Linked DNA regions of Homo sapiens: region 1 is linked to region 2. The links come from fine-mapping of genetic effects on gene expression. A gene starts in region 2. The other region holds a variant in brackets. All regions are shown on one strand. Distances are from middle to middle.

The links. PIP is the estimated chance that this variant, and not a neighbour inherited with it, causes the effect. A credible set is the group of variants that fine-mapping cannot tell apart.
Region 1: its variant is the best candidate, but not a certain one, in a credible set for the expression of DPY19L4 in whole blood (INTERVAL, PIP 0.78).

What each region holds. Positions count from the first base shown.
Region 1 is chr8:94,748,573-94,753,952 of GRCh38, reverse strand. The region is part of intron 6 of DPY19L4 (dpy-19 like 4); the gene reads right to left. Among named protein-coding and RNA genes, the nearest start is that of DPY19L4, 31 kb to the right of the region's middle. The variant C/T (reference allele first, on the strand shown) is at 2,422.
Region 2 is chr8:94,717,662-94,723,041 of GRCh38, reverse strand. It overlaps DPY19L4 (dpy-19 like 4), which reads right to left and starts at 3,142. Exons shown (of 19, transcript NM_181787.3): 1 at 3,028-3,142. The coding sequence starts at 3,043. RefSeq lists a silencer at 3,015-3,334 and an enhancer at 3,095-4,049.

The sequences.
Region 1 (5,380 bases), 31 kb before region 2:
GCCTTGGCTTCCCAAAGTGCTGGGATAACAGGTGTGAGCTACCACGCCCGGTAGCACAATGTACTTTCTTTTCTTTTTTTGAAACGGAGTCTTGCTCTGTCGCCCAGGCTGGAGTGCAGTGGTGCAATCTCAGCTCACTACAATCTCCACCTCCCAAGGTTCAAGCGATTCTCCTGCCTCAGCCTCCTGAGTACCTGGGACTACAGGTGCCTGCCACCACGCCTGGCTAATTTTTTGTATTTTTAGTAGAGATGAGGTTTCACTATGTTGGCCAGGCTGGTCTTCAACTCCTGACCTCGTGATCCACCTGCCTCGACCTCCCAAAGTGTTGGGATTACAGGCTTGAGCCACCGCACTTTCTTATGTCAAGTCATCTGCAGCCCTCTCTGTGAGTCTTCAAAATTATATTTTGACCATTTTCTGTTTAGCACAACAGTTCAGTAGCTAAGCAAAAACAAAAGAATTTCCTAGGAAGAAAGAGATAAAAACAGGGTAAAAAATAATTACACTTAAATATTTTTGTTCTTGTCAATATGTGTAACAATACTAATCACTATTATAAAAAATCAAGGATCTCCGTTGCCCTATAATCCATTCAAGTATTTATCCCTTATATAAATATTTTACAGAATCAAAACTCTTCAATTAATTTACATTCTGCTTTTTAAACTTAAATGTATTTTGCATGTTTTCCCTTCTTCATACTTATTCTTTTTTGAAAAATATTTTATTATAAAAGCAGTATATGTTTGTTAAAGAAATATTAGAAAATGTATACAAACAAAAAGAAGAAAAATCTTAAAACACCTATAATCTCATCCATTCAGAGGCCAACATTGTTAAATTTTCTGCCATAGCTTAGCCAGTACAGTACGATAAGGAAAAGAAACACAAGGAATCAAGTTGCAAAGGAAAGTAAAACTGTCAGGTTTTTTTTTTTTTTTGCAGAAGATACTGTGTACATAGAAAACCCTCAAGAATCTTCAAAAGCCGGGCACTGTGGCTCACGCCTGTAATCCCAGCACTTTGGGAGGCCGAGGTGGGCGGATCACGAGGTCAGGAAATCGAGACCATCCTGGCTAACATGGTGAAACCCTGTCTCTATTAAAAATACAAAAAAATTAGCCGGGCATGGTGGCGACCGCCTGTAGTCCCAGCTACTCCGGAGGCTGAGGCAGGAGAATGGCGTGAACCGGGGTGGCGGAGCTTGCAGTGAGCCAAGATCACGTCGCTGCACTCCAGCCTGGGTGACAGAGCGAGACTCCATCACACAAAAAAAAAAATCGTAAAAAAATACTAAAACTAATAAATGAATTTAGCGAGGCTGTGGGCTACAAGGTTTCTATTTTTTTTTTTTTTTTTTTTTTGAGATGGAGTCTCACTCTGTCACCCAGGCTGGAGTGCAGTGACACAATCTCGGCTCACTGCAACTTCCCCCTCCTGGGTTCACACCATTCTCCTGCCTCAGCCTCCTGAGTAGCTGGGACTACAGGCGCGTGCCACCATGTCCGGATAATTTTTGTATTTTTAGTAGAGAGGGGGTTTCACCATGTTGGCCAGGATGATCTCCTCGATCTCTTAACCTCATGATCCGCCTGCCTAAGCCTCCCAAAGTGCTGGGATTACAGGCGTGAGACCCTGCCCCCAGCAATCTAAGCTTTTAAAATGGGCAAAATACTTAGACATTTCACAAAATACTTGAATGACCAATAAACACATGAAAAGGTACCCAATATCATTAATCATCAGGGAAATACAAGAATATAGACGACATGGAACTCTCACACAATTTTGATAGAAAAATAGAATGGTACGATCACTTTAGAAAACAGTTTGGCAGTATCTTAAAAGTTAAATATACACCAGCCATATGACCTAGCCATTCTACCCAAAAGAAATGAAAGCATATGTCCCCACAAAACTGGAAACTACCCAAATGTCCATCAGTATCTGAATAAATGCACTATGATATATCCATACTATGTAATAGAACTTAGTGATAAAAAAGAATGAACTATTAATATAAACAACATACATGAATACCAAAATTATGCTGAGTAAAAAAAGCCGGAGCCCCACCACCAAAAAGTATATGCTGTATGACTCCATTAATATATAATTCTAGAAAACACAAACTAATCTATAGAGACTGAAAGCAAATTATGCTGGGCATGCTTGCTCACACCTGTAATCCCAGCTCTTTGGGAGGCTGAGGCGTCTGAATCGTTTGAGCCCAGGAGTTCGAGATCAGCCTGGGCAACATGGTGAAACCCCATCTCTACTAAAAATACAAAAATCAGCTGGCCGTGGTGGTGCGCACCTGTAATCGCAGCTACTTGGGAGGCTGAGGCAGGAAGTGCTTGAACCCGGGAGGCAGAGGCTGCAGTGAGCCGAGATCATGCCACTGCACTCCAGCTTGGG[C/T]GACAGAGTGAGACTCAGTCTCAAAAAATAAATAAATAAATAAATAAGAAACCAGACACAGGTTTCCTGGGAACAACAGCATAGTAGTGGTGGTTGGGTAAGAAAAGAGGGAGGTCCCGGGCGTGGTGGCTCACGCCTATAATGCCAGCACTTTGGGAGGCTGAGGCGGGTGGATCATGAGGTCAAGAGATCGAGACCATCCTGGCCAACATAGTGTAACCCCGTCTCTACCAAAAATACAAAAAAATAGCCAGGCGCGGTGGCGGGCGCCTGTAGTCCCAGCTACTCGGGAGGCTGAGGCAGGAGAATGGCGTGAACCCAGGAGGCGGAGCTTGCAGTGAGCCGAGATCACGCCACTGCACTCCAGCCTGGGCAACAGAGTGAGACTCTGTCTCAAAAAAAAAAAAAGAAAAGAAAGAAAAGAGGGAGGTATTAGAAAGGAAATTTTGGAGACTGGGCTTAGTGGCTCACGCCTGTAATCCCGGCACTTTGGGAGGCTGAGGCAGGCAGATCACTTGAGGTCAGGAGTTTGAGACCAGCCTGGCCAACATGGTGAAACCCAGTCTCTACTAAAAACATAAAAATTAGCCAGGCATGGTGGCACGTCTATAACCCCAGCTACTCAGGAGGCTGAGGCAGGAGAATTGCTTGAACCTGGGAGGTGGAGGTTGCAGTGAGCCGAGATTGCGCCACTGCACTCCAGCCTGGGTGACAGAGTGAGATCCTGTCTCAAAAAAAAAAAAAAAGGAAATTTTGGGTAGTGATGGATATGTTTATTATATTGATTGTGTTGATGATTTTGTGGGTATATTCAAATGCCTAAATTGATCAAATTGGACACTCTAAATATGTCCAGTTCATTCTATGTCAATTATACCTCAATAAAGCTGTTAAAAAAGCATTAAAATAGTTATTCACATATACATTCATAGAAGATAGGTTTGCATATATATACACACACACACACACAGATACACATATATATGCAAAAACAGGATCACATGTGAGAGTCAAATGAAACAAAAGCTGCAAGGAAGTTAGCAGTGCCTAGAACCTAGTAAACATTCAGTATTATAGCAAATCTTAGCTCTTTTCTAATTCTCTAACAAACTATTTTTTACTTAACAATATATTATGAACATCTTTCCAAGATACACGTCAATAAACATACTTCAAGAACAGTTAATGACCATGACACACCATCGTGTAGATCTACTATAATCTAACCAATTTCCTATTGTTATACACTTTGTTTCCAACTTTGTCTATGACAAATAATTTTTTAAAACATGAACCACGCGAGGCACAGTGACTTTGGGAGGCCAAGGCAGGTGGATCACTTGAGGCCAGGAGTCCAAGACCAGCCTGGCCAACATGATGAAACCCCATCTCTACTAAAAATACAAAAATTAGCTGGCTGTGGTGGTGCACGGCTGTAGTCCCAGCTACTCAAGAGGCTGAGGCATGAGAATCACTTGAACCCACTAGGGAGAGGTTGCAGTGAACTGAGATTGCACCACTGCACTACAGCCTGGGTTACAGAGCAAGACTTGGTCAAAAACAAACAAACAAAAAACATGAACCAATATTTTTATATAGTAATTATTGATTTCATTGTTTAAGCTCATTAATCCATCTGAAATTTATCTTAATGTACGTGCAATAAGGATTTATTTTCCAGATTTGGTTGTCCCAATACCATTTAATGAACATGATGTCTTCTGTAGGGAATAGAGAAGTTCTTCTTCAAAGTTTCTTAATCCATAAAGGGTTTATCATTCCCTGGTTAAATGTTTGTATGTGTATATTCCAAGGCTGCTCCAACTTGTTCTGGTAGGTTGAGATAAGGCTAAATGAGTCCCAAATTAGGATGCATGCCATTCCTTATTTGGAAACCCCTCTGACCTCTTATCACTAACTTCCTCTTTTCTTTGTCCTCTTTCCCTTCTCCCTATTTAGGAAAGTTTTAAATTATTCGCCAATCGAGTTAAGTTTAGAGTGTGAGGTCCCATCCCAGTCAATGGGAACAGGACACAGCTCTAGGGGGTTGCATCAGGATGTAAAGGTTATAAATGTCCTCCACTCCTTTGTTCAGTGTGCTCTCGTGGCTGGACTGCTGCCGAGTACACCCTTTCTGCAGAAAGTAAACTAGCCTTGCTGAGGGACCTTTGTCTCAATGTTGATTTCTTTGCAACATTGAACTCCCGTGCCCAACATCTTCTAAAGCAGCAGCCCCCAACCTTTTTGGCACCAGGGACTGGTTTTCTGGAAGACAATCCGTGGATGTGGGGTGATATGGTTTGGCTGTGTTCCCACCCAAATCTAATCTTGAATGTAGCTCCCACAATTCCCAAGTGTTGTGGGAGGGAGCCAGTGGGAGGTAATTGAATCATGGGGGCAAGTCTTTCCCGTGCTATTCTCGTGATAGTGAATAAGTCTCACAAGATCTGATAGTTTTATAAAGAGGAGTTTCTCTGCATAAGCTCTCTTCTCTTGTCTGCTACCATGTGAGACGTGCCTTTCACCTTCTGCCATGATTGTGAGGCCTCTCCAGCCACAAGGAACTGAGTCCATTAAACCTTTTTCTTTTGTAAATTTCCCAGTCTTAGGTATTTCTTTATCAGCAGTGTGAAAACAGACTAATACAGGGGAGTTGGGGAGATGGTTTGGGGATGAAATTGTTCCACCTCAGATCATCAGGCATTAGTTAGATTCTCATAAGGAGCACACAACCTAGATCCCTCAAATGCGCAGTTCACAATAGGGTTCGTGCTCCTATGAGAATATAATGCCTCTGCTGATCTGACAGGAGGCGGAGCTCAGGCAGTAATGCAAGCAATGGGGAGTGGCAGTAAATACAGATAAATCTGCAGTTGTCATCATCATCATCATCGTCATCATCATCATCATTGTCACTGCTGCTGCTGCTGCCACTCACCTCCTGCTGTGAGGCCAGGTT
Region 2 (5,380 bases):
AATGTCTATCCAGGCTAGACATAGCAGTTTCCAAGTGAAATGTTAATACTGCTCTACTCAAGGTTGTCACTTCTTTCTTTGCTCTAACATTGCGTTCAGAAAGCATAAATATAAACACCCTGGCCCTCTACTGCATCAAGGAAGACATTTTTTTAAAGACCAGATTCCCAGAGTATTTACTTGGACAATGAAGAGGATCCAAGTGAATGTGAATGGTAAGCAAGATGGGACGCGGAGAACACCTGGATACAAGTAAAATACACAGACTATTTAGTCTAATTTTAACACAGCGAACAAAAGATAATACGGATTCTGGGGGAAAAAAAGTATAGAGTGACAAATAAACATAAAACACTCAGAATGCCTGGCACATAGACAGACAGGTTTGCTATATGTATTATTATTACTAGCATTATAATAAATGAAAATTTACTCATTCATTGTTGACTATTATATCCTTGCATCTAATAGGGTATGAATACACATATTTATGGAATTAGAAATGTGTTGAATAAAGCAATATTTTAATAAATTACAACCCATTAATTGTCCCATGTAAGATGTATTTAACTGCTTTTGAATTATATGTAATTCTACAACCAAAAATCATTTATCATTTTATTTATTTTATTTTTGAGAGGGAGTCTCACTCTGTCACCCAGGCTGGAGTGCAGTGGGGCGATCTCGTCTCACTGCAACCTCGGCCTCCTGGGTTCCATCGATTCTCTTGCCTCAGCCTCCCGGGTAGCTGGGACTATAGGCATGCGCCACCATGCCCGGCTAACTTTTGTATTTTTTAGTAGAGACAGGGTTTCACCATATTGGCCAGGCTGGTCTCGAACTCCTGACCTCGTGATCCGCCCACCTTGGCCTCCCAAAGTGTTAGGATTACAGGCGTGAGCCACCTTGCCCGGCCTTAATTTTATTTTTTTTTAGATGGAGTCTCACTCTGTCACCCAGGCTGGAGTGCAATGGTGCAATCTTGGCTCACTGCAACCTCCGCCTCCCGGGTTCAAGTGATTCTCCTATCTCAGCCTCCTGAGTAGCTGGGACTACAGACACTTGCCACTCCACCCGGCTGATTTTTGTATTTTTAGTAGAGATGGGGTTTCACTGTGTTAGCCAGGCTGGTCTCGAACTTCTGACTTCAAGTGATCCACTCGCCTTGGCCTCCCAAAGTGCTGGGACTACAGGCATGAGCCATCATGCCCCGCCCATTTATCATTTTACATCACGTAAGTAAAATTTACAAAACGGTACAATCTTTTAATATTGGCTCCACAGATCTATTTAAGTACAACCATAGTCTAAAATAATTTTTCATTTTGCATGATGTATTAAAGACTTTCAGTATTGTAGTACTGATTTTTTAATGCAGTCTTAACTTTTTTAATGCTTTAAGTTAAGCATGAATGTACTCATAGGAACCTACAAGCTAGTATATCAACCTACCCCCATAAATTTGCAATTAGAAAAGAAAAATACATCAAGAAATATTTCAAATGATGATATACTGTAACCACAGACAGAACCAAGTAAACAAATGGAATTACATTCTTTCTCACCAACGACAAATAGCTTTGTTTTTGAAGCTGTTTTTAGTTAGAATGTCTTAAATTCAGACCAGCTTTAACACTCTGAAAACTCAATGGAAACAAATATGAACCAAGCCTGCATAGGGACAGGTCAGCAAGTCACACATCAGTAAACACTTCTTATGCTTAATTTTTAAAAATTGCTTTCCGCTGAATCCTTTAAACTCCTTCCTTGCACTCTTGATTCAGAAAGGCTTGAGTCGGCTGGACCCGTGGCTCACGCCTGTAATCCCAGCACTCTGGGAGGCCGAGGTGGGCGGATCACCTGAGGTCAGAAGTTCAAGACCAGCCTGACCAACATGGAGAAACCCCGTCTCTACTCAAAATATAACATTAACCGGGCGTGATGGCGCATGCCTGTAATCCCAGCTACTAGGGAGGCTGAGGCAGGAGAATCGCTTGAATCCAGGAAGCGGAGGTTGCGGTGAACCGAGATCGCGCCTTTGCACTCTAGACTGGGCAACAAGAACGAAACTCCGTTTCAAAAAAAAAAAAGGCAGGGGGGCTTGAGTCTAAATTAGATCGATTTACTATCACATCCACAGCTCCACTCATAAGGTAAAAAGTTGTGTTTTCCACCAGAATGCAAAAATCTAATTGCTTCTCACTTCCTGAAACTAGTAGGGGTTATCATGAAGTTACTATGCCATGAGTATTCCTTGTATTGTTTATCACTAACCGATAAGTTTCATCTAACTTCCCATTTTTGTCTCATACTTATCATTTTCTATAAATAAAATACTGCTGAATGAATTACTTATCTTAGCATTGATCCTGAAGGCGGCATGGAAACCTTTCTCCAGCTCACCCACTTTGACCCTCAAAGGCCTCCTGGCCTCATCATCTCCCAAAACTATAATAATTAGATGGCTCTGCTCTTTACCATTTTCCCCTGAACCTAAGTGAACTTGGCTTTCTTCAGTTTCTGCGTGTTCGCCCATTCCCAATTAATCTTGCCACGTTTATCCCAAATCCCTGCCTCTTTATCCCCGTGGTGAATGTTCCCTCGCCCCCTGTGCCTCTGGGTTTGTCAATATCCACAGCCCTTTAAAAATCGCATTCCAAATATGCACTGAGTACCTAAACCTGATCTTCGAAACCAAACTGCGCCTCCCACTTCACCAAGAATCTGATCAGGACCCTCCCTCTTTCCCAACCACTCCCGGCACAGCTTTCTCTCTTGCTACGGATTCCCAACTTTCAGCTCCACCTTTGCTTCCCAATTCGGCCGACAAAACTTCGGGCCATTTGCTCCGCTCTCCTGAATTTCTCCGCAGTCCTCTCCTGGGCGCCGCGCTCCTTCCCGCCCTGCCCGCGCGGCCGCCACCGCGACCGCGGCCACCAGCAGCTCCAACCCAGACCTCCAGCGCCCCCGCCCCTCCTTCCCGAGACCACTGGCAGCCGTTGGCGCGCTGGACCCCGCGGCAATCACCTTCTTCCTCCGCCATCGTTTCTGCGAAGGCTAGGGCGCCCTGCGGCTCCCGCGCGGCCCAGACTCTCCCTCCCTCCGCGTCGCCGAACCCCTCGGCCTCCGGGGGCCCGCTCCTGGCCGCCGCGCCCCCACTTCCTGACCCACCCCCCTCCGGTGTCGCCGCCAACCGCGTCCCCGCAGGCGGCCCGGGAACCAGAGTGTTGGGAGAGGGGAGCGGCCGGAGCGTTTCGCTGGGGCGCCGGGGCCTGCGCGGGCAGGAAGGAGACTCCACGCCGGGAGTGCAGCCCACAGCTGTAGCTCCTGGCCGCCGCCTGCCCTGGAAAGCGAGACTGGTGGGTCTCGCTGCAGCCCCGCCCCTCGTCCTACTCTTCCCAAAAAGTGAGGGCATGCTTTCCGCCACTTTTGTGACTCCGCGACTTAGCGAGTCAGAGACGATCATCAGCGACACCTCCCAGGTCCAGCCTCCATTCCCGCCCCATTTTACATGGAGGAAACTCAGATCTAATGTGGTGGAAGTCACAAAGCCGGTCAGAGGCAGAAGTGGAACCCGGTGCTCCAGAACTGCCATCGCTGCCTGCGTTCTCGCTGGGATTTCAGAGTGCAGCAGCAAAACGTTCTCAGTTGGCGCTTTGGTTTCGTAGGCCACTTGACCATTACAAGAAAGAAGCTTGTGCTTGGAACTTGTTTTAAATCACCAAAACTGGTTTAGCAAATATGTTGCATTTCATGATATTCTGGGGGGGGGGGCGGGGAGATAATACAATGGTCTGGGGTAGAGCAGTGTGCAATTAGATATTACAGAGCAATAGGGAATAATTTTAATTTGTTAAACTGTGTTTAACTTTCATTATATCTAGCATTCTTCAACAAACACCGGGATCTTTTCCCCAACAGTACTCAGAAGTAAATTTAGTAAATGAAATATACCCATTTTAGATCGGGAGAAACAGGCACGAGAATTCACTGAAGTCATGGGGTAATTATGGACACCCCATTATTAGCAGGCAGCAAGATTCTCCTAATAGCACCTTTAAGTTAGGATATTTGGGGAGAGGCTATCATTTTTCAGTGATGTGCAGAAACGGTTCCAGGAACTTTTTTTTTTTTTTTTTGAGACAGAGTCTCGCTCTGTCGCCCAGGCTGGAATGCAATGACTCGATCTAGGTTCACTGCAACCTCCGCCTCCCAGGTTAAAGCGATTTTCGTGCCTCGGCCTTCCCAGTAGCTGGGACTACAGGCGCAAGCCACCACTTAATTTTCATATTTTTAGTAGAGATGGGATTTCACCATGTTGGTTGGCCAGGCTAGTCTCCAACTCCTGGCCTCAAGTGATCCGCCCACCTTGGCCCCCCGAAGTGCTGGGTTTACAGGTGCCCACCACCACGCCCGGATAATTTTTTGTACTTTTAGTAGAGAAGTGGAGGGGTGTGGTTTCACCATGTTGCCCAGGCTGGTCTTGAAATCCTGACCTCAAGTGATCCACCGGCCTCAGCCCCACAAAGTGCTGGGATTACAGGCATGAGCTACCACGCAGGGCCTCCAGGAACTCTTTTTATGTCTGGTTCCCCGTAAAGATGTTTTTTGCCTTAAAACAACACTTTACCAGGAGTTAGAAACAGTGGACCAGAAAAGGCCTGGTGCCAGAGCCAAGAGAGCACAGAATATAAGGACCCTGAAAACCACAGGATATGGTAGGGTCCCTGGACATGAGCAACAGTACCTGAGTATGCTGCTTATCAGATCAGCTGACTGAAAGAGCTGCACCTCTTGGAAAACATATAGTAGCTATTGAGGTCTGCTGTTTTCTAAGTCTAGAGTCTTAATATCCTACAGTTTCTTCACGGTCACCTCAAGTTGACTAATGGACTAAATTTTAAGTTTGCCTGACCTCTACAATAACAGGGGAAAGAAAAATGATAGAAAAAAAATAGCTTCTTAAAATAACAAATGGAAATATAAGATAAGATAGAGATAATTATGCCCTAGTAGAAACATTCTTCTCTTGAACCCTAAAAACCCACATTAGGGCCGGGCACGGTGGCTCATGCCTGTAATCCCAACACTTTGGGAGGCTGAGGCAGGTGGATCACCTGAGGTCAGGAGTTCGAGACCAGCCTGACCAACATGGAGAAACCCCATCTCTGCTAAAAATACAAAATTAGCCGGGCGTGGTGGCGCATGCCTGTAATCCCAGCTACTCGGGAGGCTGAGGCAGGAGAATTGCTTGAACCTGGGAGGTGGAGGTTGCGGTGAGCCGAGATCATGCCATTGCATTCCAGCCTGGGCAACAAGAGCGAAACTCCATCACACAAAACAAACAAACAAAAAACACATAAGGATAATGAGAGTGGAG